3 separate regions of the Homo sapiens genome follow, and regions 1 and 2 are each linked to region 3. Evidence: fine-mapped expression QTL. A gene starts in region 3. Each other region holds a variant in brackets. All regions are shown on one strand. Distances are from middle to middle. Region 1 overlaps KCNT1 (potassium sodium-activated channel subfamily T member 1). Region 2 overlaps LOC105376313 (a long non-coding RNA gene). Region 3 holds the start of KCNT1 (potassium sodium-activated channel subfamily T member 1).

Region 1 (8,171 bases), 68 kb before region 3:
ACAACACACAGACACCACATACCACACACAATACCACTCAGACACACATCACACACACGGACACATACCACACACACCCAGACACACATCACATATCACACAACACACACCACACGTGACAAACACACGTTGACACACAACACACATTACACATATGGACACACACCACACACATAACATACACCACACACACACACCGGACACACCCCCCTTGCACACCCACCCCCATGCCCTACTCGGTCTTTCTCCTCCCACCACAGCCTAGACCAGGCTTTTCAGCCACATGCAAAACCCACAGGGCTCTGCCCGCCCGCCATGCCTCCCTGACATCCCCAGCACCCCCGGCTGGTGGGGCAGGCACTCTGGCCTTGGGCTCTTACCCACATACTTGTCCAGCCAGGCTGTTGTCCCCAGCAGGCCACCACCCCGTCCCCAGCAGCACCCAACACACACATGCAATGGTTCAGGGCTGTTTCCCAGCAGCTGGGCTGTCATTACAGTGTGTTGACCCCACCCCAGAGGCAAAGGCCAGGACAGAGTGAGGCAGCCCCGCTGAGGATGGACCTCGGGCCCTGCAGCTGGGGCACTTGTCTGTCCTGGCTGAGGCCAAAAGGCAGAAGCTGCTGAGAACAGAGTGGGGCCTCCTGTCTCATGATTTGAAGCAGGAGGACTTGGCCCCAAACCTAGGCCAGGACAACAACTCAGGACGGGCTGTGGTTTCCAGGCTGGGACACTGCCTTGCCCAGGGGTTGCACAGGGACCCTGCTCAGAGGACACCCACCCCTGGTCAGGCGGGCTGTGCCCCTCTGTGCTCTGTAGTGCTAAGGGGGAGACCTAGGGCACTGGGTGGAGGATGGCCTGGGGTCACTGCCCAGCTCCATCCTGATTCAGAGAGTGGCCGGGCCACTATGGGGCTGGTGAGGTGGGTGGGAACGGGCCCCTCTCTGAGGGTGGCGCTGCCTGGTGCCTGACAGCCCCTGTGCCAGTGAGCTGCCTCGCTCCAATTAGCTCTGCACCCCCAGCCCCAACTGGAAAGGGTGTAGCCCAGCACACCCCATCTCAGTGACACTCAAAAGTGCTCCCCGGCGACGAGGGTGATGTGGCCCTGATGTCTGTGTTGGGCCCCCTGAAGATTTCATTTGTCAAACAAGGACTTCCACGGAGCTGTCCAGAAGCTGCAATTCAGAGCATGGGGGACCACCAAGGATGCTCCGACACCCATCCCCCGCACTCATGGGCGGCTCCTCCCCCCACTGGGAGCCGTCTCCAAGGCAGCACTCACTCTACCACGGAGAGCCCCTCGTCGTCCGACGGCGTCACCTCATCCTCCGACTGGTCGCTCAGCAGGTCGCAGGGCAGCAGGGCTGAGCTGTCGGCCAGTTCCAGGACGGGCGCGATGCTGGGCCGCCGGCTGCCCGAGCCGTTCTCCGTGGGCAGTGCCAGCTTGCTGCCCCCGCCCCCACCGCCGCTCTGCGTAGGCCGGTGCTCTGTGCCCTGCAGGTCCATGGCCACTGTCCCTGGAAGAGAGCCCTGTGCTTGGCCACAGCCCGACTCCCACCCTCCATGGGCGGCGAGTTCCCAGAGCTCAGGTGAACACAGTCAGCTCTGGAGACCCTGTCATGGCCTGGCTCCTGTGCTCCAGCTGAGGAGCTTCAATCTATGCCTCAGTTTCCCCCTCCATACAACAGGGACAGTGGCCTCTGGGGTGGCGATGATGTTGAGCGAAGACCCAGGGGGCCCCAGTGCCCCATCGGTGCCACCCAGGCCAGCTGCTGTGGCCTCAGCACCAGATGCCTGAGGAGGGGGTTGGCTGATTCTGGGCTCGGGGGTCTCAGCCTTAGGGGCCTGTGCAGCTGGTCAGGCTGCCTGGTGGATGGGGCCAGGTGGGGAGCAGCTGGGTGACTCAGTGCCTGTGGGAGCAGACTCTGCCACTCCTGCACCACCCCAGGCTGCCAGATGGGGGTTGTGGACCTCTAGGTATGGCCCAGGGCCTCTGTGGGTACAGTGAGGGTTGCCCGAGTCACCCTGGTTTCCTGGAAGCCACCTGGGGGCAGAGTGCCTACTGCGCAGGTGAAGGTGGAGGTGTGGCTAGGCAGCAGCAGCCTGCCTCCCCAGTGCCCTGCGGCCAGGCCCGGCCCCCCGAGTGAGCTGCCGTAGACGGCGGCCGGGAACCTGCGGGGTCTGGCAGGTGGTGGGCTCCGCATCGGCACGTCTCCAAACCCCAGGGCCCTCTGGGTCTTGGAGACTGTGCCCCACTGCACTGAACCACCTGGTGCCCCAGCAGCCACCGTGTAACAACACCCCAGGGTGGGCGTGCTGGGGTGCCCCATAGGGTCAGCCTCTGCCTGGGCCACTGTACGGAGGTGGCAACATGCTGGCCCGGCTGTGGGTCTGTGGCCTGAGTGGCTTCCTGGCCTGGCCCTGCTCCCTAACTGTCCCCCAGGAAGGCCTGGCTGGGGAGGGGGCAACACCACTATGGGTGGTGCCCTAGGGGCCATGGGCCTCCACCTGCTCAGAGGCAGCCTGACCCTGTCTGGTAAGCGGCTCCCCGGGAGGATCCCTGAAGGCACGAGAAGAGGCCAAAGCCCTCGGCCACTGCGACCTCATTCCGCCAACTCCTGGCCCCAGTGGACGTCAGGACTCCCGACTGTTTGAGGGACACACGTGAAGCAGACCCTCCGGGCTGATGGGACCACCAGGAGCCTCCGGTTGAGCTGCCAACCGGTCCTGTGGGCGGCCCCACTTGGACAGGCACTTGGACACAGTGAGCAATGCCCACAAAGGTGGCCACAGGAAGGCGGGGACACCTGTTTGACAGATTCAAAAACAGGCCCAGAGAGACTCCACCTGTCCAAGGTTGGAGGCATAGGCCAAGAGGAACTGGGTCTGGGGGCCACATTGGCCTGGTCTCCTGCCCTGCCCGGTCTGGTCTCCTGTCCCACCTGGTCTCCCGCCCTGCCTGGTCTCCCGTCCCACCTGGTCACCTGCCCCTGTCCTGCCTGGTCTCCTGTCCCACCTGGTCACCTCCCCCTGTCCTGCCTGGTCTCCCATCCCACCTGGTCACCTGCCGGTGTCCCGCCTGGTCTCCCGCCAAAGGAGCAGGCCCAGGGAGTCCCGCGCGCCTGTCCCGGCTCACCCATGGAGGCGATGATGCTGTGCACGGGCAGGCGGGCCGGACCCTCGTGCAGCCCCTGCCCCGAGAAGGCCCTCTTCTTCCGCTTCTCCTCCTGCTTGAAGATGAAGGCCGAGTTCTCCTCCTTGGTGATGTTGATGTAGAAGCAGGTGTCAGAGGCGGCCAGGATGTGCCGGGGCCCCGGGTTCAGCAGGATGCTCTTGTTGTCCTCCCGCTTCAGCCCGATGAGGCACACGCCATACCTGGGCAGAGGCACCGGCAACTTCAGGTACCGCCGCTCACCCGCCCTGTCCCGCTCCCTGCCTGCCCTTCCTGCAAATCACCAGAGTCCCCACCGGAGCTCCGCGTCTTCCTCCTGGGGGCCATTTGGGGTCAGGGACCTTGGCTGAGCCCTCCCGTCCCAGAGGTGTTGGGGACCAGAGAGCTGGGGTCAGCCCACAAGCCTCAGGGAGGAGCCGCGTGGCAGGTTTTTATGTGGACCCGGAGCCCAGTCCTGCGGCTGCCCTCGCCAGGCAGGATGACCTGATGCCCTCCCCCGAGCCCTCTGCAGCCCCGCCCCAGGGCCACCCCTGTGCCTGACCGGGAGGGTGGGGAGGGCACAGAGCAGAGCAGCCCTGGAGCGCCAGCCCTGTGGATGCAGCCCGGCCTTACTTCTTGTGGGCGTGGAAGGC[C/T]GCGTAGGTGAAGCTCTTGCCCTCGTACTCGCGGAAGAACTTGCTGTCACCCATGCGGATGTGGTACACCTCGTTGCCGGAGCAGCGCCCATACATGCGCTGCCACTGCTCCGGAGACTCCTGTCCCTCCCTGTGGGCCAGGGCGGGGCCAGGGGAGCGTCACCCTCGGCCATGGCTGCCCCTTCTCCCCGGCTGGGTCTGCAGGTGCCCCCCTCTGCTTCCCCTGGCATGGATCCCCTCCCTATGCAGGACTTTTGCCCGCCATGTGCCCCTCCTCTGGGAAGCCCATCCCCGCCCCCAAGCAGGCCCTGCGTTGTCTCCCTGCGCCGGCCCCGCCATGGAGGTCGGTCCCCCGGGGCACGGGGCACTCACTGGCCGCGGGACGTGTGCACCAGCAGGGTGATGAGGGTGGAGGTCGCCGGGCAGATGCAGTTCAGCGCCAGCATGGCGTACTTGCACTCCTCCTCACACACCACGTGGTCTGCGGGCAGTGGGGGAGGCCGGTCCACCTGCCGCTCTGCCGGCTCTCTCCTCCCCCACAGTACCTGCTCACTTCCTGAAGGTGCTATGCAGATGCACCCTTGCCTGGCACCCCCGTGTCTGCTGTCCGGCTTCAGCATCTCTGCCCCGAGAGTCTGTGGACCTCAACCCCCTACTTGGTCTGAGCCTCGGTGGACCTTCCATCGCTCCTGTGCTTCTCTCCCAGCTCAGCGAGGAGTTCCAGGGCGGGGCAGGCCCTGGCCCCTGTGCCTTGGGCACTCCATGTGGGCCCTGACCCCTGTCCCCTGGGCACCTGGCATGGGGCCTGCCCCCCGTTCCCCGGGCACCCGGCATGGTCCCTGCCCATAGAGGTGCTCATCAGACGGTGCTCCTGCCCCCACCTGACCTCTGACCCTGCCTTCACTGACCCCAGGATCCCAGCATAAGACTTCATCTGAAGAGTTTGGACCCCCTAGGTCCCTTCTCGGATGCGGTGAGGATGGGGGTCTGCCGTCCCCTCCAGCACCTCCTGGTGTGCTTGTGTGAGGAGCTCCAGGGCCAGCCCCTCCCGCTGCCCCACACAGCTCGCCTAACTGCGTGCACATGCGCCCTGCCCCAGACACACCGTCACCCACGTGTGCACACGCGCCCTGCCCCAGACGCACCATCACCCAACAGCATGCACACGCGCCCTGCCCCAGACACACCGACACACACGTGCACACGTGCCCTGCCCCAGATGCACTGTCACCCACGTGTGCACACGCGCCCTGCCCCAGACGCACCGTCACCCACGTGTGCACATGCGCCCTGCCCCAGACGCACCGACACCCACGTGTGCACACGCATCCTGCCCCAGACGCACCGTCACCCACGTGTGCACACGCGTCCTGCCCCAGACGCACCGTCACACATGTGCACATGCGCCCTGCCCCAGATGCACCATCACCCACGTGTGCACACGTGCCCTGCCCCAGATACACCATCACCCACGTGTGCCCCAGACGCACCAGCAAACTTGACGTGAAACTTGTTTTCAGGTTTGAGGATCTGGACGTAGAGGGGGCAGTTGGGGGCGAAGTCCTTCACGGCCCAGGCGCGCAGGATGGTCTGGTGGTCCTGGCGGGGTGGGTGGTTGGTCAGTGCAGACGGGCTGGCCTCTGTGGGCTGCTGGGCGGCACCGGCAGCCTGGGGCAGGTCTCTTCCCTCAGGGACCCCCGCTCCCCGGCCCCACGGTGCCCCTCCCGCCTGGGCAGGGCCTCAGCCTCACTCACTGCAGCCGTGCGGTCCACCTCGTTCCTGCTGCTGAGGATGAAGCAGGCCTCCCCATTGTCCATCCTGCAATGCACCAGGGCCTGAGCGTGGGTGGAGCAGGGGAGGTGGGCAGTGCAGCCGGGGGTGCGGAGGTGAGGTGGGGAGGACCTCCTCTGGGAGGAGGCTGGTGCAGCAGGTGCACAGAAAGAGACTGAGAGGACGGCTGGATGGAAGGCGGAGAGGATGGAAGGCGGGGAGGATGGAAGGCGGGAGGAGGCCCCTACTCTCTGCTGGTCAGGAGTCACAGTGCCCCCTCAGTGGGCATCCCCATACTGCCCCCCCCCCCCCCAACCCACATCACAGTGTCCCCCACGGGCATCCTTGTGTGCCCTCCACCAGCAGGCATCCCTGTGCCCCCCCCACCGGTATCCCAGTGCCCCCCCCCCCCCCCCCGCAGGCATCCTGGGCCTCTCCAGACTCCCTGGCCCATCCCTGGCAGGCTCTGAGCCGGGTCAGGACTCCTGGACACCCTAGGAGACTCCAAGCTCCGACACTCGAGAAGGCACAGGAGCCACACCTGTCCCCCGAGCGTGTGCAGGCTGACAGAGGGTGGGGGCAGGGTTCAGGAGCCACACCTGTCCCCTGAGCGTGTGCAGGCTGACAGCGGGTGGGGGCAGGGGTCAGGAGCCACACCTGTCCCCCGAGTGTGTGCAGGCTGACAGCGGGTGGGGGCAGGGGGTCAGATGCTATGGATGGTGTGTCCTGGAGACACCAGCTGACAGCTTCTCCTGGCCACGGCCCTGAGTGGGAGCCCATGGTGCTTCCTAGGGCAGTGCCTGCCCTTCCTCCCCCAGGCCCTGTTCTCTGAAGCAACCCCCCAGCTTGTCCCTAAGTTGGCCAGGTAGGAGGGGCATCAGGAGGTCGTGCGAGGGGGCTCTGCTGGCTGGGGCTGCCTGGATTTGTCCATACTCCCAGGCGTCAGGGGCTAGGGGTCCAGGGTTGGCAGGAGCAGGCCCGGTGGAGACCCCACCTAGGTGTGTGCCAGTGACCTGGGCACTGGCTTCCGGGGTACCCATCTTGTATGTTGCCATGAGACATTCACCCAGGGCTGGGTTGGGGTGCAGGAGGGAGGGGGGAATCTGGGGGCAGAGACCCTGTCCGCTCCCTGGCCTGGCTACTCTGTGGTCTGGGAACCTGGGTGGTCACTTCCAGCGCCTCCTGGGTCTCCTGAAAGCCCAGCTGCAGAAACCACCTAGCACTGCTGAGACGCTGTCTAAGAAACTGTCGCCTCTGCCCCAGGGCAGGGAACCCCACCACATCACTGGCACCACTGTCTGCTCCGCAGGGGCCCCAGGCCCTGTACCCACAGCCCTGGGCTCATCCCTGCCTGGCTGGGAATGGCCTACGCCCTTGCCCTCTCCCCACTCCCTGGGCCCAAGCAGGTGCATCGCCTGTGTGTGCTGGGGACGGGACCACAAAAGAGGTGGCGTTCCATAGGCAATGGGTTCCAGCTTGGGGCTCTGGACATGGCAGGGGGAGGGGGAGTGATGAGGAGAGACCCTGGGAGTACCACCAACACTATGCCACTAAGGACACATTCAGGCTCCTGGAATGAAAATGTCACCAGGAGGGTTTTCCAGGGAGTGTCCCAGAAAGTGCACCGACACATTCTGGAAAGTTCCAGGTAATAATATACTCTTGTTACCTTGTCACTCTGTCAATTTGTCTTTAAAAGGAACTCTACCTTCAGCCCGTTCTCCCACCTTGACTCACAGCAGCTGACTCTCCCGCCCCTGTTCTATTTTGAGCCTCCCTAGAACTTGACAAAGATTTCCCTAGACTTGGAGCAGGGGAAGGTGGAGCTCGCAAAAGGCTGCCCCTCACCCTGAAAAGGGAGACAGAGACTTAGCTGGGTTGGGCTTGCCTGGGCTGCTCCACAGTGGGTATGGTGCAGGGACAAGGGCCTGGCTGCAGGGTCCTGCTCATCTGGGCCTGGGACCTGAGCTAGAGAAACTGCAAGAGGCCCCGGACAGTCTACCCCAGACAATCCACCCCAGAGGGTCCACCCCAGACAGTCCACCCTGGATGATCCACCCCAGACGGTCCACCCAAGAGGGTCCACCATGGATGGTCCACCCCAGACGATCCACCCCAGATGGTCCACCCAAGAGGGTCCACCATGGATGGCCCACCCCAGACAACCCCAGAGGGTATACCCCAGACGGTCCGCCCCTGATGATCTACCCCAGAGGACCAACCCCAGATGGTCCACCCTAGATGGTCCACCTTGAATGGTCCACCCCAGATGATCCACCCTGGATGGTCCACCCTAGAGATCCATCCCAGATGGTTCACTCTGAATGGCCCACCCCAGACAGCCCACCCCAGATGGTCCACCCTGGACAGTCTACCCTAGATGGTCCACCCCACATGATCTACACTGGATGGTCCACCCTGAACAGTCCATCCCAGATGACCCACCCTGGATGGTCCCCCCTGGACAGTTCACCCCAGATGACCCACCCTAGACAATCCACCCTGGATGGTCCACACTAAATGGTCCATCCCAGAAGGTCTACCCTGAATGGTCCACCCCAGACAGTCCATCCTAGATGGTCCACCCCAGATGGTCC
Region 2 (8,171 bases), 750 kb after region 3:
ACCTTCCTCTGACATGGTAGCTCCCACAGTGACAGAAACTTGGGTTTGGAGCCTCTATTGTCTGGCTGTAGCACCTGCCATGCCAGCCCCAGGCCCAAGGTCACATAGTGGGAGACAAGGGTGAGCATGGATTCTCCTTACTTCCTTACTCTGCCAGCTGCCTTCCCTCTGCTCTGAACTGCGGGACCTGAACTCAGACTCCAGGGCACTCTAAGCCATGGCTGCATGGTGGGGTCCCTGGTAATGCAAGTCTTCTGGACACACTCACTCAGCTGGGGAGAAGTTTGCCAAGTTCTGGCTCAGATGACTAGGAGAGATGGCTTGGCCTCCTCAAGCCCAGGCCCTGGCAGGGCAACCAAATGCATCTCCCTGAACCCACCAGGCTTAGGTGCCAGAGGACAGGATTTCTATGTCTTCTTCATTGTTTTTCCCCAGTGCCAAGTGCATAATAGGAGCTCAATAAATATTTATTGAATAAATAATCTTTGCATGAATTGTTATAAAATCTCTGCCAGAGTCAGTGCTACTCGCAGACTGTGTTTCTCTCTCCTGACACTTGGTGGTTGTTAAATCAGAAATCGTCCCCTATCTTCATCCATCCAGCCGTCCACCCAATGGCACACTTCTAAACGATTTGTGACAGCTACAGGTACAAACATAGGTGACATCTGAATACATTTTTGGGCATTTGCATAGGGGTTGTTCACTCCTAAGGTCTCACCCTAACGACTGTGTTGGAGGTTATTGTGCCACGGGGCCTTAGGCACAAAGGGCTCGGGTTTGGTGCTGAGATTCCAACTTTAGCTGATGCATTGACAGTAGCATAGGAAGCAGCTGGTGGGTTTTATTTGCAGCCTGGAGGGGTCAGCACAGAGGAGGGTGGAAGGCGAGCATGAAGGAACAAGAGAAAGCAAAGGACACTGGGGTTCATGGCTGTTCACGGGTCTGCTGAGAACGGAGGAGGGCTTTGCTTTGGCACCGTCTAAAAATACTCAGAGTGCTCGTGATGCCCACAGCTAACTTCATACTTAATTCAGAAGGACTGAAAAAGCTTTCTACCTCTGATCAGAAACATGACGAGGATGTCCCTTCTCCCCACTTCTATTCAACAATAGGGTTCTAGCAAAACCTAGTCAGGAAAAAGAAAAGATATCCACATAGGAAAGGAAAAACAATCTCAATTTGCAAATGAAATGATCTTCCTAAGAAATCCATGAAAAATACTCTTAGAACAAATAAACAAGTTCGGCAATGTGGCAGGATATAAGATTAATATACAAAAATCAATTTTATTTCTACACACTTGTGATGAAAAAGCCAAAAATGAAATTTAAAGAAATTTCCACTTATAATTGCATATATACCTAGGGATAAATTTAACAAAAGAAGCCCAAGGCTTGCACACTGAAAGCTACAAAAGGTTGTTAACAGAAATGTTTAAAGACCTAGATAAACACAAAGATATCCCACATTCTTGAAGGGCATGACTTGCTGTTGTTAAGATGGTGGTACGCCCCCACATTTACCTACAGATTTGGTGTAATCCCTATCGAAATTCTGCCTGACTTTTTTGGTAGAAATAAAGAAGCTGATCATAAAATTAGTACAGAAACTCAAGAGATCCAGAGCAGCCAAAATATTCTTGAATAGAACAAAGTTGAAGGACTCAGACTTCCTGATTTCAAAACCCACTATAAGGCAACAATAAAGATAGTGTTTATTGGCATAAGAATAGACATATGGATCAATGGAATAGAACTGAGAGTCCAGAAATAAACCAATAAACCCTCACATCTATGGCCTATTGATTTTTGATAAGGGTGCCAAGACCATTCAATAGGGAAAAATAGCCTTTTCAACAAATGGCGTTGGAATAACAGAATATCCATATGCATATTCAAAAATTATCCACATATAAAAAACTAATTCAAATGAATCAAAGATTAGGCCAGGCACAGTGGCTCATGCCTATAATCCCAGCACTTTGGGAGGCCAAGGGGGGCAGATCACCTAAGGTCAGGAGTTCAAGATCAGCCTGGCCAACATGCCGAAACTCTGTCTCTAGTAAAAATTCAAAACTTATCTGGGCATGGTGGCATGTGCCTGTAGTCCCAGCTACTTGGGAGTCTGAGGCAGGAGAATCTTTTGAACCAGGGAGGTGAAGGTTGCAGTGAACCAAGATCATGCCACTGCACTCCAGCCTGGGTGACAGAGTAAGACTCTGTCTCAAAAAAAAAAAAAAAAAAAAAAAAAAAAAAAAAAAAACATGGATCAAAGATTTAAATGTAAGAGCTAAAACTATAAAAGCTCTTAGAAAAAAACAGGCATAAATCTTTGTGACCTTGTGTTACTCAACAGCTTCTTAGATATGAAATCAAAAGCTCAAGGAACAAAAGAAAAGACAGATGAATTAGACTTCATTAAAATTAAAAGCTTTTGTGCTTCAAGACACAATAAATTAAAAAGACAACTGACAAAATGGGAGAAAATCGTTATATATCATCCATCTGATAAGTGACTTGTATCTAGAATAAAGAACTCACAGCTGGGCACAGTGGCTCATGCCTGTAATCCCAGCACTTTGGGAGGCCGAGGCAGGAGGATCACCTGATCCTGATCTTGACAAGATTGAGACCATTCTGGCCAACATGGTGAAACCCTGTCTCTACTAAAAATACAAAAATTAGCTGGGCATGGTGGTGTGCACCTGCAGTCCCAGCTATTTGGGAGGCTGAGGCAGGAGAATTGCTTGAACCTGGGAGGTGGAGGTTGCAGTGAGCCAAGATCAAGCCATTGCACTCCAGCCTGGTGACAGAGTGAGACTCCATCTCATAAAAATAAAATAAAAGAATAATAATAATAATAATAATAATAATAAGGAACTCACTATGCAATAATTAAAAGACAGAGAACTCAATTTTTTAAAAAGGGGCAAAAGACTTGAATAGACATTTCTCCAAAGAAGATACACAACTGGCCAATAAGCACATGAAAAGATGCTCAGCTGCATTAGCCATCAGGGAAATGCAAATCAAAATCACAGTAAGATACCACTTCACATCCATTAGCATGGCTGTAGTCATGAAGACAGATAATAACAAGTGTTGGCAAGGATGTAGAGAAATTGGAACTTTCATATGCTGCTGGTGGGATGTAAAATCATGCAGTTGATTTGAAAACAGCCTGGCAGTTCATCAAAAGATTAATTATTCAGTTACCATATGACCCAGCAATTGCACCCCTAGGTATATGCTCACAAAAACTGGAAACATGTTCACATAAAAACTTGTACATGAATTTCATAGCAGCATTAGATCTTAACAGCCAAAAAGTAGAAACAACCCAAATGTCTACCAACTGACAAGTAATACCATGGAATAGTATTCAGCAACCATGGAGTATTATGCAGCAACAAAAAAGGATGAAGTACAATTGTGTGCTGCAACATGGAAGAGGCTTGAACACATTCTGCCAAGTGGAGAAGCCAGTCACTAAGAGCATCCGTTGTCTGATTCCATTTATACAAAATGTCCAGAATCAGCAAATTCATAGAGACAGACAGGAGATTGGTGCTGGCCTGGGGTCAGGTAAGACCTAGAGGAGGTGAGGGATCGGGGAATGACTGCTAATTAATACAGGCCTTCTTTGGGAAGGGACAATGAAAATGTTCTCACATTAGACTGTGCTGATGGTTGCACAGCTCGTGGAGACAGTTACTAAAAAGCATTGAGTTGTGTATTTTAAATGGGGAAATTCGATAGTAGGCAGATTACAGCTCAACAAAGCTGTTAAAACCATCACAATAACCAAGAAAGATTCTGTACCTACCCATGGTCCAGATCTCAACTGACCCGTGGCATACACGCATGAGCGTGCTGAGCAAAGCAAGCTGCGTCTGCAGGCGAGGACTTGCAGGGCATGAGCTGAGGCCAACCCCAGAGCACCGGCGGGGCTGGGGGGTGCGGCACAGATTTGCCCTCCACAAGGTGCACTCTCGTCCTTTTCTGTTTGAGATACAATTTAACACAATATGATGCACAGATCTTAATTTAGTAAATTTTAACAATTGTAGGCACCCACGTAACTACCACCCTAAAACTCCAAATTATGGCATATTGCCATCACCCTAGAAAGTTCCCTGGAGCACACAACCAGCCAGAGTTTTGGGAAGTCAGGAGTGAGAGAAAGGAGGCGGACTCCCAAGTGGGGCCATGACTGCAGCCTATAGGATGGGTTTGCAGAGGGTGAGACAGAGATCAGTTAGCAAAAGGGACCTTTGTCCTCCCTGAAAGCTGATGGAAACTGAAGGAAAGAAACCCTTCTGCTGAAGGAAATGCAGCAGGGCCCACATTCCCAAAGCCCCTGGGATGATGATCTTTTGGTCATTCCTTGTCCTCGCTCTTGGGGAAAACGTCAGCTACCATTTCCGCCCTGAGTCTGCCAAGGGGAGAAGGAAGAGAGAGGAGAGCATTCCTGAATTCAGAGTGCGTTGACAACAGTTTCAGAAAGGTGGATGGATGGGCGTATCCTTCATGACCAGGGACCACGGATGGGTGGAGGTGATGCAGACCTTGCCAACTGCCTCAGCCCGTCCTTGCCCAGTATGCACCCTTACACCCTGGCCATCAGCCAGCTCCACGCGCCCAGGGAGGCGGATGCCCCACACACAGCGTCTTGAGGGCACAGCCGGTGCATCTTCCAGGGCCATTTGGAGAAATAGGAGTTTTGTTGTTGCTGTTGTTTTCTAACACAGTTTGGTCTGGGGCCTCCAAAAGGCCAGCTATAGACACTATAAATTGATGGGTTTCTAGGGAAACCTGTCAGAACAGAAGATGAGTTTCAGCCACTGTGGCAGTGACGGGGCCAGAGGCAGAAATGGCCTAGAGGTACCATATGCTCTCGTAATGTACTTTGCTTCCTGCTATTTATGAGCGGAGGACGCTCTGAGTGCATCGTTCTCAATCAAGGGCATGACCAGCAATCACTCTGTGTGACTCAGCTGCCAGTGGGCCATGGGGTTGACCCTGGAGAAACCTCAGGGGCCTGGGTAGGCCTCCAGCCAGAGT[C/T]GGAACCTGGCCTCAGTTCCTCCCGCCTGCACACCCCTCTACAAGTATGGCCTAAAGGTCACGAAATATTTAGCTCTTCCCCTTCGCCTCTAGGACAAGAAGGGAGCCAGAGATCCAAGGGATGAGAGCCCAGCTTCAGAAATCAGACAGACAGGTGTGGTCTTAGCTCTTCCGGCAGGATGTGACTTTCAGCTAGGTGCCCCAGGGGATCTGTCCCCACCCACATTGCAGTGGAGAGGTGGCACTCTACTCCAGAGGCGGGGCTCAGATGCTGGACCAAATTGAGGACCAGCTATAACAGGGATGGGGTGGAAGCACCTTTCCATAAGACACGCCCACCAGTGTGAGTTGACCGCTGCCATGGCAACACCTGGGCGTTACCTCCTCTTTCCATGGCAATAACCCCAGGATCTAGAAATTTCTGCATAAACCACCCCTTAATCTGCTTGTAATTAAAAGTAGATATAGATGTGACTGCACAACTGCTCTGAGCTGCTCCTCTCAGCGCACTGCCTGTGGGGTAGTCCTGCTCTGTAGGGACAGTCACGGAGCTGCAACACTGCCTCGTCAATAAAGCCCCACCCCACCAGGGGCTTGCCCTTGAAGTCTCTCCTGGGTGAAGTAAAGAATCCTTGGGGGCCCAGCCCCACTTTGGGGCTCCCTGCTCTGCATCAGCGTGATGGGCCTAATGGTTGACTCAAGGTAGGGAGTACCCAAGTCAATGCATGCTGGGGACTCGGCAGTGGGGCTGCCCTGAGCGGAGGAGGAATATCCTGACAGACTGGCTGTCATTCAGGGGGGAGTGGGGTTGTGGTTGGCGCAGGAGCCCAGCTGAGGACAGGCATGAGTCAGGGTGGCAGTGGATGCTGTCATGTTCTGGGACCCCAGGCAGGGCACAGTGTAGCTGTGCCACGAGGTACACAGGAAAGGACGAGAGGCCTCCAAAACGTTCACAGTTGTTATTTCTGGGCAGTTCTTCATGTTCTTTAAATTTTCTGCATTTCTCCAAACTCTTTACCCAGCACACAGGGCCTTTACAATCAGAAATCTAAGAGAGTCACTGCGCTCAAAGCCACGCTGGGGCATGGCACCACGGACATGGCACACTGTTCGGCCTGTCATATGCCTCACATACGAGCTCACGTTTCTCGAGGTTTGCCCACCCACCCAGCCCCGTTCTGGGCTCTTGCTCAGGCTACGGCATTGATCTCATTACCCCCCAGTAGGCGAGGAAGGGGCACAGGTTGGGAAAGTTGTGCCAGGTCATATGGTTGGTAACTTGTGCAGGGAAGCCTCTCACCTGAACTGTGTTTCTCCTCTACTCTCACACCTCAATAATCATCAACACAGGAGAAGACTTCTGTGATGCTCCCCCGCCAAGGCTGCCCCTACACACACCAGCCGCAAGTCTGGGCCCCTGGAACTTCTGACTGGCCGCCTTCAGGTTGGCATTCCCATGACCCCCTCTTTCCAATTCTATTAATTTGCTGGAGCAGCTCGCAGAGCTCAGGCAAACACATTTATAGATTAATGAAAAAGAATATTGCAGATGAAGAGATGCGTAGACCGAAGTGGGAGGAAGGGACGCAGAGCTCCCACATCCTTGCTGGGCGCGCCACACTCCAGGAACCGCACTGAACCGAGTCCTCTTGGGATTTTATGGAAGCTTCATGATGTCAGCATTCCTTCCCCCATGGCATAGGATGGGACCCTCTCATGGGAGGGTCTTAAGACCCACAATCCGAAAGGCAGGAGAAAGTTAGGGTGCCGCCTTGGGGCAGGTGAAAGGAGGGCAGGAGAAGGCAGAGGCTGCCCATGAGGCTCAACACCCCCAACATTCTAACGCAAATGGGAACAAGTGCTATGGGAGTTATAAGCCAGGAGCCGCAGACGAAAACCCGTATCTATCCTAACAGCACATAACTATACAAAATCTATTTCCTGGCCACATAGTCACTTTTTAACGTAACCTTGGTTAACAGCATGGTGTTCAGTGTTTACAGAACACCTGGGCCTGGAGTGAGTGTGCCGGTCAGGTTCACATAGATATAAAGGATATGAAGGGAACCCCGGACACTGCTCCAAAAAGCAGACCCAGGGATGCCTGTGGGTGGCCGGTGATGGGCCCCTCTCACCCCTGGGGAGCTGGGCTGGTTGCAACCTGTCCGCCGGCACTGCCAGGCCAGGGTCACGGCTGAGGATACCCAGGGCAGGTGCAGAGGTGAGGAGGTCCCAGGTGAGCACCCTGGGAGTGGGGTGAGCTCTGCCGCGGCTTTCCTGGGGAGGGCTGTGGGAGGCGCAGGTGTGTCAGCAACGACCTGAGGCTGTGCTGTGGCCCCATGGCTTGCTGTCCATGGCCTTCATCTGCCTCTCGCCTCCTCTGGAAATGAGAGTGACTGTCCCGGCCACCCTGACCCCGCTGACCGAGAGCCCAGACGAAGGGGTAGTGGAGGGGGACCTGCTTTTCTGTCCAGAAGGATTTGGTTTGAGCCTTAGTTTCTCATGCAGCTGCAGGTGACAAGGGCCGGCAGCTGTGCCTGGCAGGGCAGGGCCCTTCTATCCAATTCTGAGCTGAATCTTCCAAGCCAATGATCTCACAGACGTGGTGTCAGTGTTACAACAGCCCGCGAGGCTGCCGAGCCACTGAGAAACTAGGGTCACCTGCAAGTGAGCAGGTGGGCAGCACCAGGCAGTGTGGGGGCAAGGATGCCTGCAGGGGCACCTCCTGCAGGGATGAGCCTTCTAGCACATTCTAAGGGAACCAACGCCCTCTGCCCTGCTGGTGCTGTCCCCAGAGACTTTGATAGCTGGGTTTTGGGTGGGTCTTGGCTTCTCAATGTAAGAGGCCAGTGCGGGGTCCTGACGTGCAGCTGGGCTGGGGCGGTGTTCAGAGCACCGGGCTCCTGTCCTCTCTCCTCACCCGTCATGCAGGGACCTCCAGCCTTCCTTCCCCAGGCTGCTGGGGTGGGGAGGGGTGTGGAAGCTAGAGTCTGTGCAGCAAACATGGGTGGTCGACACTGCTGTCTGTCAGGCGGAGCAGCCCTAGAGCGGCACAGCCGGTCCGCTCCCCCGCATCCTTGGAGACAGATGGCCAGAGCCTCTGCT
Region 3 (8,171 bases):
AATGCTTAGCTCTGACGTGTCAACACAGGCTGGTGCGTGACAAGGCAAAGACGAACTGGCTGGTGTGCAAGCTCCCGACGCCAACACAGCTTTGTAAACACCAAGTATGTGCTGTCAGCATGGGCTCAACACAACCTCGTAAGGTCCATGCTAGCACTCCCATTCTACAGATGAGGAAACTGAGGCCCAGAGAGGTGAAGTGACTCGCCAGAGCTGACACAGCTACTGCATCTCAGTGCTGGGATGGACCAACCTCACAGACACAGTTCCCAGAAGCTCCTCCAGGCCCTCTGCTCCTCCCGGGGCGCCCGCCTTGTGCCAGTCCAGACCCTGGTCCTGCAATGCCCTCCATCTCCTGATGCCCCCACCTCTGCTCCAGTGAGGCCACCCTCCTCTCCCACCTCCCCCACCTCCCGCCCCCGATCTAGGGAGCAGCTGGAGGCCCCCTCTCAAGGAGGGCCTTCCCAGGGACCTACCCCAGGAAGCTCGCGGCCTCTGCCCTGCCACTGTCCCCTGCAAACCTGTTACACTTGCCAGCTGCTAGTACTGGTCTCACCTCCCTGGGCCAATCGCATCCTGGCCTCAGTTCCAGCCCCGCTGGCTCACTTCCAAGTTCCACAGGTGAAAGTGGGTCTGGGTGAACATGGGTGGCCTTATCCACACACACAGCTGGGAGAGGTCCCAAGACACCTTTGAAAGATGCCCATTTAACCGGGCCTTGGCACCCAGCCACCTAGCACGGGCACGCTGAGCCCAGCCTGCCTTTCCCCAGACTCATGACCGGTGACTTCAAGGTCACACAAGCTGGCTGGCGGGCCCCACACATCCTCCTCCAGCTCTCACACACGTGCCCACGGTGCGCCTGCCTGGCTCACGGAGCGCCCAGGTTCACATGCACACACAGCACTTGTTTTTGGGTACACGATACCCGTTCAGCATCCCTCACCCATGCAGGGCTGGGACACACTTGGACAAACTTTCCTGTTGCAGAGAAACCTGGGATTGTTTGTGGGAGACACAGAAGTGCCACCCTTTCCAGGGCCGATGGCACCTGGGTCAAAGCCTGCAAGTTTGCATCCCGGGGAAGCAGGACAAAAAGCCTCAGGGGAGAGCCCGAGATGCCCCCCAACACCCTCCGAGGGCATGAGATGGCCCCACAGCAAGGCCCCACTACTGCCACACCAGGCTCGTCCCAAGTAATTTTCTGTGTTAATCAAGAGCTCCCCATACGGTGGGTGAACCAGACCAGCACACTTGGAGGCTGCCGGGTGCGAGGACACAGGCCACACCCAGGCCAGCCACTGGAACAGAAGCAGAGGCCCTCGTGGGGACCCTGTCTGCTCCCTTCTCACTCACCTCTGTCCTCCTGAGCTGTTACTGTGGCCACTCCTGGGCCACAGCAGACCCCTGAGTTCCCTGTGGCCTGAGCCGTCCCTCCTGCCGGCCAGTGCTGGGCGGTATCTTGGGCCCTCAAACCTTTCCCATGAGCCCTGAGCTACTTCCTGCTGCTGAAGGCACTGCTCCCTAATATGGGCCTGGAGGGCTGGCCAGGACCTTGGGCCAGGCATGTACCCTGGCAGGATGCCAGGGCCTGATCCCATCAGGGCCTAGAGGGTCCCAGGCCCGCCCTGGAGCACAGCTGCTGGGAAGTGGTATTTCCAGGAAAGGCCTGGCAGGGGCTCTGATGCGAAGTGCGCTGGGCAGGGGGTGGGCACTTGCCAGCTCTGGGGCCACCAGGGCCACTGGTCCCTCCCTGTCCTACAACAGCTGTCATCTCCAGGGCCTGTGGGGAGGCAGCTGAGGGCCTGGGACTCCATGGCATGGAGGTGGGAGCAGGGAGCCTGGAGGCCAGAGGCCCGTGAAGACCCCTGCAAACTGGAAGGCCAGGAGCTCCTCTCTGGAGCCCCACTTTCCGGCCTGATGGCCTTGAGGCTGACTCAGGGACACCACTAGCGTGGAGCTGGGGGTTTGAGCTGGGGCACTGGAGTGGGGTGGGGTGTCCAAGCACCTCCTGGCCCCTCTGAACCATAGCACCAAGGCTGGCATCCTCCAGCACCCAGGAAAGACAGAGGCCTGCTCAAGGCCTGGCACCAAGACCTATGGACTCCAGGGCCTGGGTTCTGACCACGCTGTTGCCTGGCACCCTCCTCCCCATGTGAGAGCTGGTGGGGAAACCCGCCCCACAGAGCTCCCCCCACCACCAGGCAGCACGAAGGTTCTTCTTTCTGCAGCTGAAGCCACCTGCCTGGGCCGCAAGCCTTGGCCTCACCTGGAGCTCAGCTCCCCGCTCCCGAGCCCAGCCAAGCCCAGGTCCTGCTCCCTCCCCAAGCCTGACGCCTGACATCCCTCCACTGCCGGCGGCTGCTCTGCCTGCAGTGTGACAGGGAATCTCTGTTGCAACGGAGGCCAGCTCAGTCCAGCGGGGAGGAGGAGCTGTCCCGGGCCGGTGGGCAGGGCCAATTGGGAGAGACAGGTGTCTGGAAGGACCCGGAGGATGAGGCCTGGAGCTAAAGGCTGGACCCTGAGGACACTGTCCTGCCGGCTCGTCTGGAGCAGGTCAGGCCCAGCAGGGTAGGTGATAAACTCCAGCAGAATGGCCAGGGAGGGCAACGCTAGGCTGGGGAGGGAGATGGTAGGGGCCGGCCAGCCCACAAAGATGAGGGCAATCCAGGACCCCCTTGGGGTCATTTTCTCTGTGCCTGACAGGCATCCCCCGGATAGTCCCTCAGAGCACGTCCAGGCTGTGCCCACTTCCCAAGGACATCACCAAGTCACTGTCCACCCTCAGAGCACCTGCTCCTCACACACGCTGTACCCCGGACTCCCCCGGGTGCCAGGTGGGTGCTGTGCCTGCCTCTTGATTCTGGGAACCTCCTCTCCAGCCTGGTCCCTCACCAGAGGCAGCCCTTAAAGACCATCCGCCCTACCTCCTCATTTTACACTCGGGGAAACTGAGTCCCATAGAACAAACAGGCAGCCGCACCAGGCCTCCCGCTCTCAGGTATGCTCTTCCACCCCCTTCTCTGGCCTCAGGACAGCCTGAGACTGGGCAGGATCCAGAAGAAAGGGCTCTGTCCTGGTGGGGAGGGGTTCGCCCAAGGCAGTGACCGGCTCTGCCCAGGGTTCCCTGGAGTCTGGCTCTGGGGACAGGGTGAGGGGCAGACTTGCCTGTTTTCAAGAGCTGAGGGATGGGGGAGAGGATGGGGAACCTGGACCCTGGGGCAACCTCCGCTCAGGACTGTCCCACTCAGCTGCCGGTCCGTGCCTCTGCACTGGTCACTGGGTGGACGGCAGACGCATGGCATCCCAGGACACTGCACAGGGAACAGCTAGCTCCAGGTCACCTGAATGCCATTCTCAACTGGCCCTCTCCTCCCAGGGATAGGCCAGCGGGGAACGAGGAGTGACCAGAACCCAGGACTCCCGCCCTCATCTGACAGCCACTTAGCCCACTTCCCACTGGGGACTCTTCCTTGGAAGGTTGCTCTGGAAACCCCCTACTGTGTGGGGTAACCTCGCCGGGCACCCCACCCTGGCCGAGCACTGCCATGCCACACAAGAAGGATGGAACCTTCCTCCCCAAGCTGGGGTGGGGCAGGGGCTGGGGGAGATGGAAGGCCCTGCACCGCCCCCAGCCTCCCTGCCACTCCCCACACCTGGGAGATGCTCAGGACCCCCATGTAGCCACGGCCGCTCCCCCCAGCTTCTTACCAGGTCGAGGACAGATGGGGACGGACGCTGCTGCCTCGGCACCTGCTGATTAGTGCGGCCCACCCTGAGGGGCGCCCCTGTTCCCCAAGGTGGTTGGGAGGGCACTCGCGGGTCCTGGGGAAGTTGGATGGCCCTGGGAATGGCGGGTCCTGGAGGGTGCGGGAGCCTGAGGGGGAACTTGGGGGTCTTAGGTTAGACCGGGGCCTCCCCGCGTGGGGAGGGCGCAGCAGACTGTACCTGGGGGCGCATTGGCCGTCGTCAAACTCGAAGGTCCGGTTGGTGTAGCCCCCGCCGCGCGCCTCCCGGCAGACGCCCCCCGGGGTCCGCGCCCCGTCAGGGAGTGGCATGCGGCCTGGCAGCTCGGACCCGACCCGAGGGAGAAGCGAGTGGGAGCCGCCACCTTCTTCCCTCGCGTTGCCCTGAAAAACATTTTTTTTTTCCTCGCAGATTAGCGAGGAAAAGACGCCAGTTCCAGGGTCGGGTGCAGGCGTCTGTCCGCGCGCGCCCCCTGCCGGCCGCGCCGGGACCCGCGGCGGCTCTGGCCCAGGCTGGGACGGGGGTGCGGGGTAGGGAGGGCGATCCGCTCCCGCCGCGGCCCTCTGAGCCCTCAAAACTCCGAAAAACAGGACGGGGTTCGTCAATGGCTAGAAAAGCCCAAGCGCGCCGCCACCGGGCCCTACACCCCTGGGAGGGCTCCGTGGTGGGCGGGGGCTCAGGGGGCTCTGGGTCCTTGGCGGGCAGCAGGGCACATGCGCTGCTCGGACCGCCAGCGTCCAGCCGCTGCGCCCAGGGACCGTCAGCACCTCCCGCTTGTGCTGCTCTGCCGTGGTCAACACTGGTCATTGAACACAAGCCAGATTCAAGACGACTCCCCGCCCCCCCGCCCCCACACCCCCCGCAGGCTGCGGCATCTGTGGGTGGGCGCCACATCCTGGGCTTGGCCTGGGGGAGGGGGATGACTGCACCCCGCCCTGTGCTCTCACCCAGACGGGCACACACAGCACCTTTAGACGGGTGGGGAGGGGCCCCAACTTAAGATGCTGCAGGCCAAAGACTAGGAAGCAGAGGGTCCCCCTGCGGGCCCCCTTTCCCGTGCACGTGCTCACACTGTTACACATGCGTCACCCTGGCTCAGCCTCACACAGAGCTCTGGAGAACTGCGATTTCTGTCCCCAGAGCTTTGTTGGTTTGCAGGGTGGACCAGGCCCCTCACTAAGCCAGGACTGTGCCCACGAGGGCCAGGGGGAGGGCCAGGTCCATTTGGAGGGCGCATGCCATGTACTTTGTGGTCCCTGGCCTCCCCAGTGTCTCTCCAGAGGGTCCTTCCCTGTTTCTCCAGGAGGCAGCAGGCTGAACACAGATGCTTTTGAGGGGTGGGTGGGGAACACTCGGGGAAGTCTAGGATGCTAAGTCCCCAGCAGAGGTTCAGCCTGTGCCCCCGCCACACAGCTCGTGGGCATCTTGGGGGTTTTTCCTCAGGTCCCTAGATTGGCCGGTGCTGCTGCCGGGGTCCCACCACCCCTGGGCGGGTGCCGCCGGGGCAAGATGGTGGCCTTTCTGCCAACGCCCTCCTGCCTGGGGAACTCAGAAAAAACTGAGAGGCCGCACCATCTGCATCTGTGATTAATTAGCAGTAATTACACGTGTTGTCAACGGCAGGAGAGTCACAGGTTTGATGACATTCCGAGGGCTTTAGGGAAACAAAAACTTGGCCCCACTCTGCCACTGAGGAGCCCCAGATCGCCAGCCCGTCCATCCCTCCCTGGCCAGGGGCAGGGCCGGGAGAGGGGCCCAGGTCCCCGAGAGCTTTTGCCCTCCTCTCCAACCCCGTCCTCCTCCATGTCTGACCTGCAGCCAAGGCTGGGCGGAGCAGGGATGGAGACACCACCTTATATTACATAACCTCCCTCTGCTCCAAACACCCTTCACCCATCTTTGGCCCAAAGTCCAGGATGCCAGCCCGAGGCCCAGAGCCGCGCCTTCTCCACAGGAGACTGGGGCACCCCGGACAGACGTCCCCGTGTGGTGGCACCTGCCCGGGCTCCTTCTTGCCTCCCCTCTCGGGAGGAGAGCCCCTGCCACCCACCCCACCTCCTCCCGCTACGACCTCAGCACGAGCCAGGCCAGGGATGTCCTCCCAACAGTCCAGCCTCACCCCCCACCCTCGTCCCCTCTGCTTCCCTGAGGGCCCCCCGCAACCTCCGTGAAAGAGGAAGGGTCTCCACCTCCCCCTTCCCTCCGTCATCCCCCCAAAAGTATGTACTGGGGGACTCAAGCCCAGCGCAGGGCGGCTCCTGGAGTTCAGCGGGGAGGTGAGCAAACACCTGGCGCCGGAGCTTTCTGAATTTGGATGGGCAGGACCCCCGCGATCCCGCAGAAACCTGTTGAGAGTGTGAGGTGAGGGGTCGAGCTGGGGCCCCAGGGCATAAAGCGGGGATGGTGCTTGGGCAGGGCCAGGTGAAGGGACAGACGGTTCCGAGGGTGCCCGGCAGAGCTCAGCGGGAGGAAGAGCACGGACGATGGTGGCCTGGGGTGGGGACAAGATGCCCCTGGTTCTGGGCGACCCAGAAGTGTGGATGGTGACCCTACCCTGAGGCGCAGCGTCTGCAAGCGTACTAGATTTGGGGGAAAATGGAGGCGTGGGCGACTGGGGAGCAGGCGGGTACCCTTCCCCCTCCCTGTGTCCCTGGGTCCCCCAGGCCTGGGCTAAACAACTCAGCCCAGCCCGCCCACTCCCACCAGGGGCTGGGCTCCTAAGGGCAGAGCCCGCATCTCCAAAGTGCCCAAGGGCACCGAGACCACCGCATAAGTGGGAACCGAGGCGACCCCCGGGAAGGTAAGGGTAGAGGCAGGGCCACCTGGGCTGGGGCCCCTTCCCCTGGCGTCCTGCGGGGGCATAGAGTGGGTGGACCCCCCGAGTCCCTTTCCAGCACCTTCTTTGCAGGAACGCGGGTCACGTGGGCCCCGGGCTGGCTGCGTGGGGAGGGCTAGAGCGCATGCGCTATGGGGGCGGATTGCAAGTGGGGGTGGGGTGGGCTAGGTGGAAAGCACGTGGCAGGTGGGCAGAGCACACGTGAGGGGGCGGGGCTGCCTGCGGAAGGGGCCGTGCGCGTGGGGTCGCTCCGCAGCTGCGAGTTCATGGCGTCCCGGTGCTCCGAGCCCTACCCGGAGGTCTCCAGAATCCCTACCGTCAGGGGATGCAAGTGAGGAATTGGGCTGGCGGCCAAGGGGTTGGGGGCCCAAGGCCTGTACCCAGGGGTTCTTCCGCAAGTTGCTGGGCTCCACCCATCCTGGGCCTCCTGGGGCGGAGCCCTGGACCCTGGGAGAGGGGAAGGGGTGCAGAGAGGGCCGGGCCGTGTCCCTACGTGACCCAGTCTTGGCTTCCACCCGCACCCCAAAGACGCCCATTCTGGCATCTGGGACTCCTGGTGGCCTTTTCTGGGGTTCTCAGGGCCCGGTGCTCTTGGCTTTCTCGGCAGCGGCTCCCTGTCTGGTGCCCTCTCCTGCTGCGAGGACTCGGCCCGGGGCTCGGGCCCGCCCAAGGCCCCTACGGTGGCCGAGGGTCCCAGCTCCTGCCTTCGGCGGAACGTGATCAGCGAGAGGGAGCGCAGGTGAGTGGTGGTGCCTCCCAGGGGTGAGGGCGCTGTAAAGGGGTGGAGCGGGTGAGATTATGTTCGGGGCTGCCACCAGGTGTCAGGCAGCTGGGAGGGGCTCGTGGCCTGTGCCCAGGAGAAGGACAGACTGCACATCTCCAAGTAAACCAGAAAAGCCCTGTTGGGGAACATCCTGCAGCCCCTCTTTATCCTGAAGCCTTGGCCTCTTGAGGCTGTGCACCTGTGACCCTCTGTGCTTCTGACTGCCTCTGACCCTCGCTGTCTTTTCCACACCGCAAAGCAGCCATGGTTTGGGCCTGGGCTGGACAGCCTGTCGCCGAGGTCCAGGGGTCAGGCCCAGGCTGTGCTCTGATGTGGATCTCGGGGCTTCAGACCACGGGGGCAGCTCTGAGTCATCTTGTAGCCCCCTCTGCCTGACAAGCGCCCAGGGTCTATCTGGCAGGTTCTAGCAGTTGCTGTCCCTTCTCGGGGAGGGCAGGAGGGCCCAGAGGTATTTGTTTCTTGACCGGAACCAGGAAGCGGATGTCGTTGAGCTGTGAGCGTCTGCGGGCCCTGCTGCCCCAGTTCGATGGCCGGCGGGAGGACATGGCCTCGGTCCTGGAGATGTCTGTGCAGTTCCTGCGGCTTGCCAGCGCCCTGGGGCCCAGTCAGGAGCAGCACGCTGTGAGTTGTAAGGGTAGACGCCGTCAGTCCTCCGGCATCACGGTGATGGGACATCTCACCACCTTGCAGGCAGTGTGTCCCCTGTCATCCCCGTCTCCTTCAGCCCTCTGGGTCTCCACGGCTAGAGCAGGCCACGTTTTCGGCAGGGCACTTCCTGATTTGTTCAAGCCTTACCTGTTGTTA

What was found.
Region 1: its variant is fine-mapped to the expression of KCNT1 in blood mononuclear cells (TOPMed, PIP above 0.99).
Region 2: its variant is fine-mapped to the expression of KCNT1 in hypothalamus (GTEx, PIP 0.94).

What each region holds. Positions count from the first base shown.
Region 1 is chr9:135,766,061-135,774,231 of GRCh38, reverse strand. It overlaps KCNT1 (potassium sodium-activated channel subfamily T member 1), which reads right to left. Exons shown (of 31, transcript NM_020822.3): 14 at 5,559-5,622; 15 at 5,295-5,403; 16 at 4,177-4,285; 17 at 3,785-3,934; 18 at 3,137-3,375; 19 at 1,283-1,517. Among named protein-coding and RNA genes, the nearest start is that of KCNT1, 68 kb to the right of the region's middle. The variant C/T (reference allele first, on the strand shown) is at 3,805.
Region 2 is chr9:134,947,429-134,955,599 of GRCh38, reverse strand. LOC105376313 (a long non-coding RNA gene) reads right to left here. Exons shown (of 3, transcript XR_930421.3): 3 at 6,573-8,171. Among named protein-coding and RNA genes, the nearest start is that of FCN1, 34 kb to the right of the region's middle. The variant C/T (reference allele first, on the strand shown) is at 5,067.
Region 3 is chr9:135,698,146-135,706,316 of GRCh38, reverse strand. It overlaps KCNT1 (potassium sodium-activated channel subfamily T member 1), which reads right to left and starts at 4,132. Exons shown (of 31, transcript NM_020822.3): 1 at 3,949-4,132. The coding sequence starts at 4,058. SOHLH1 (spermatogenesis and oogenesis specific basic helix-loop-helix 1) reads left to right here and starts at 6,836. Exons shown (of 8, transcript NM_001101677.2): 1 at 6,836-6,914; 2 at 7,191-7,322; 3 at 7,841-7,988. The coding sequence starts at 6,850. RefSeq lists a silencer at 4,204-4,333.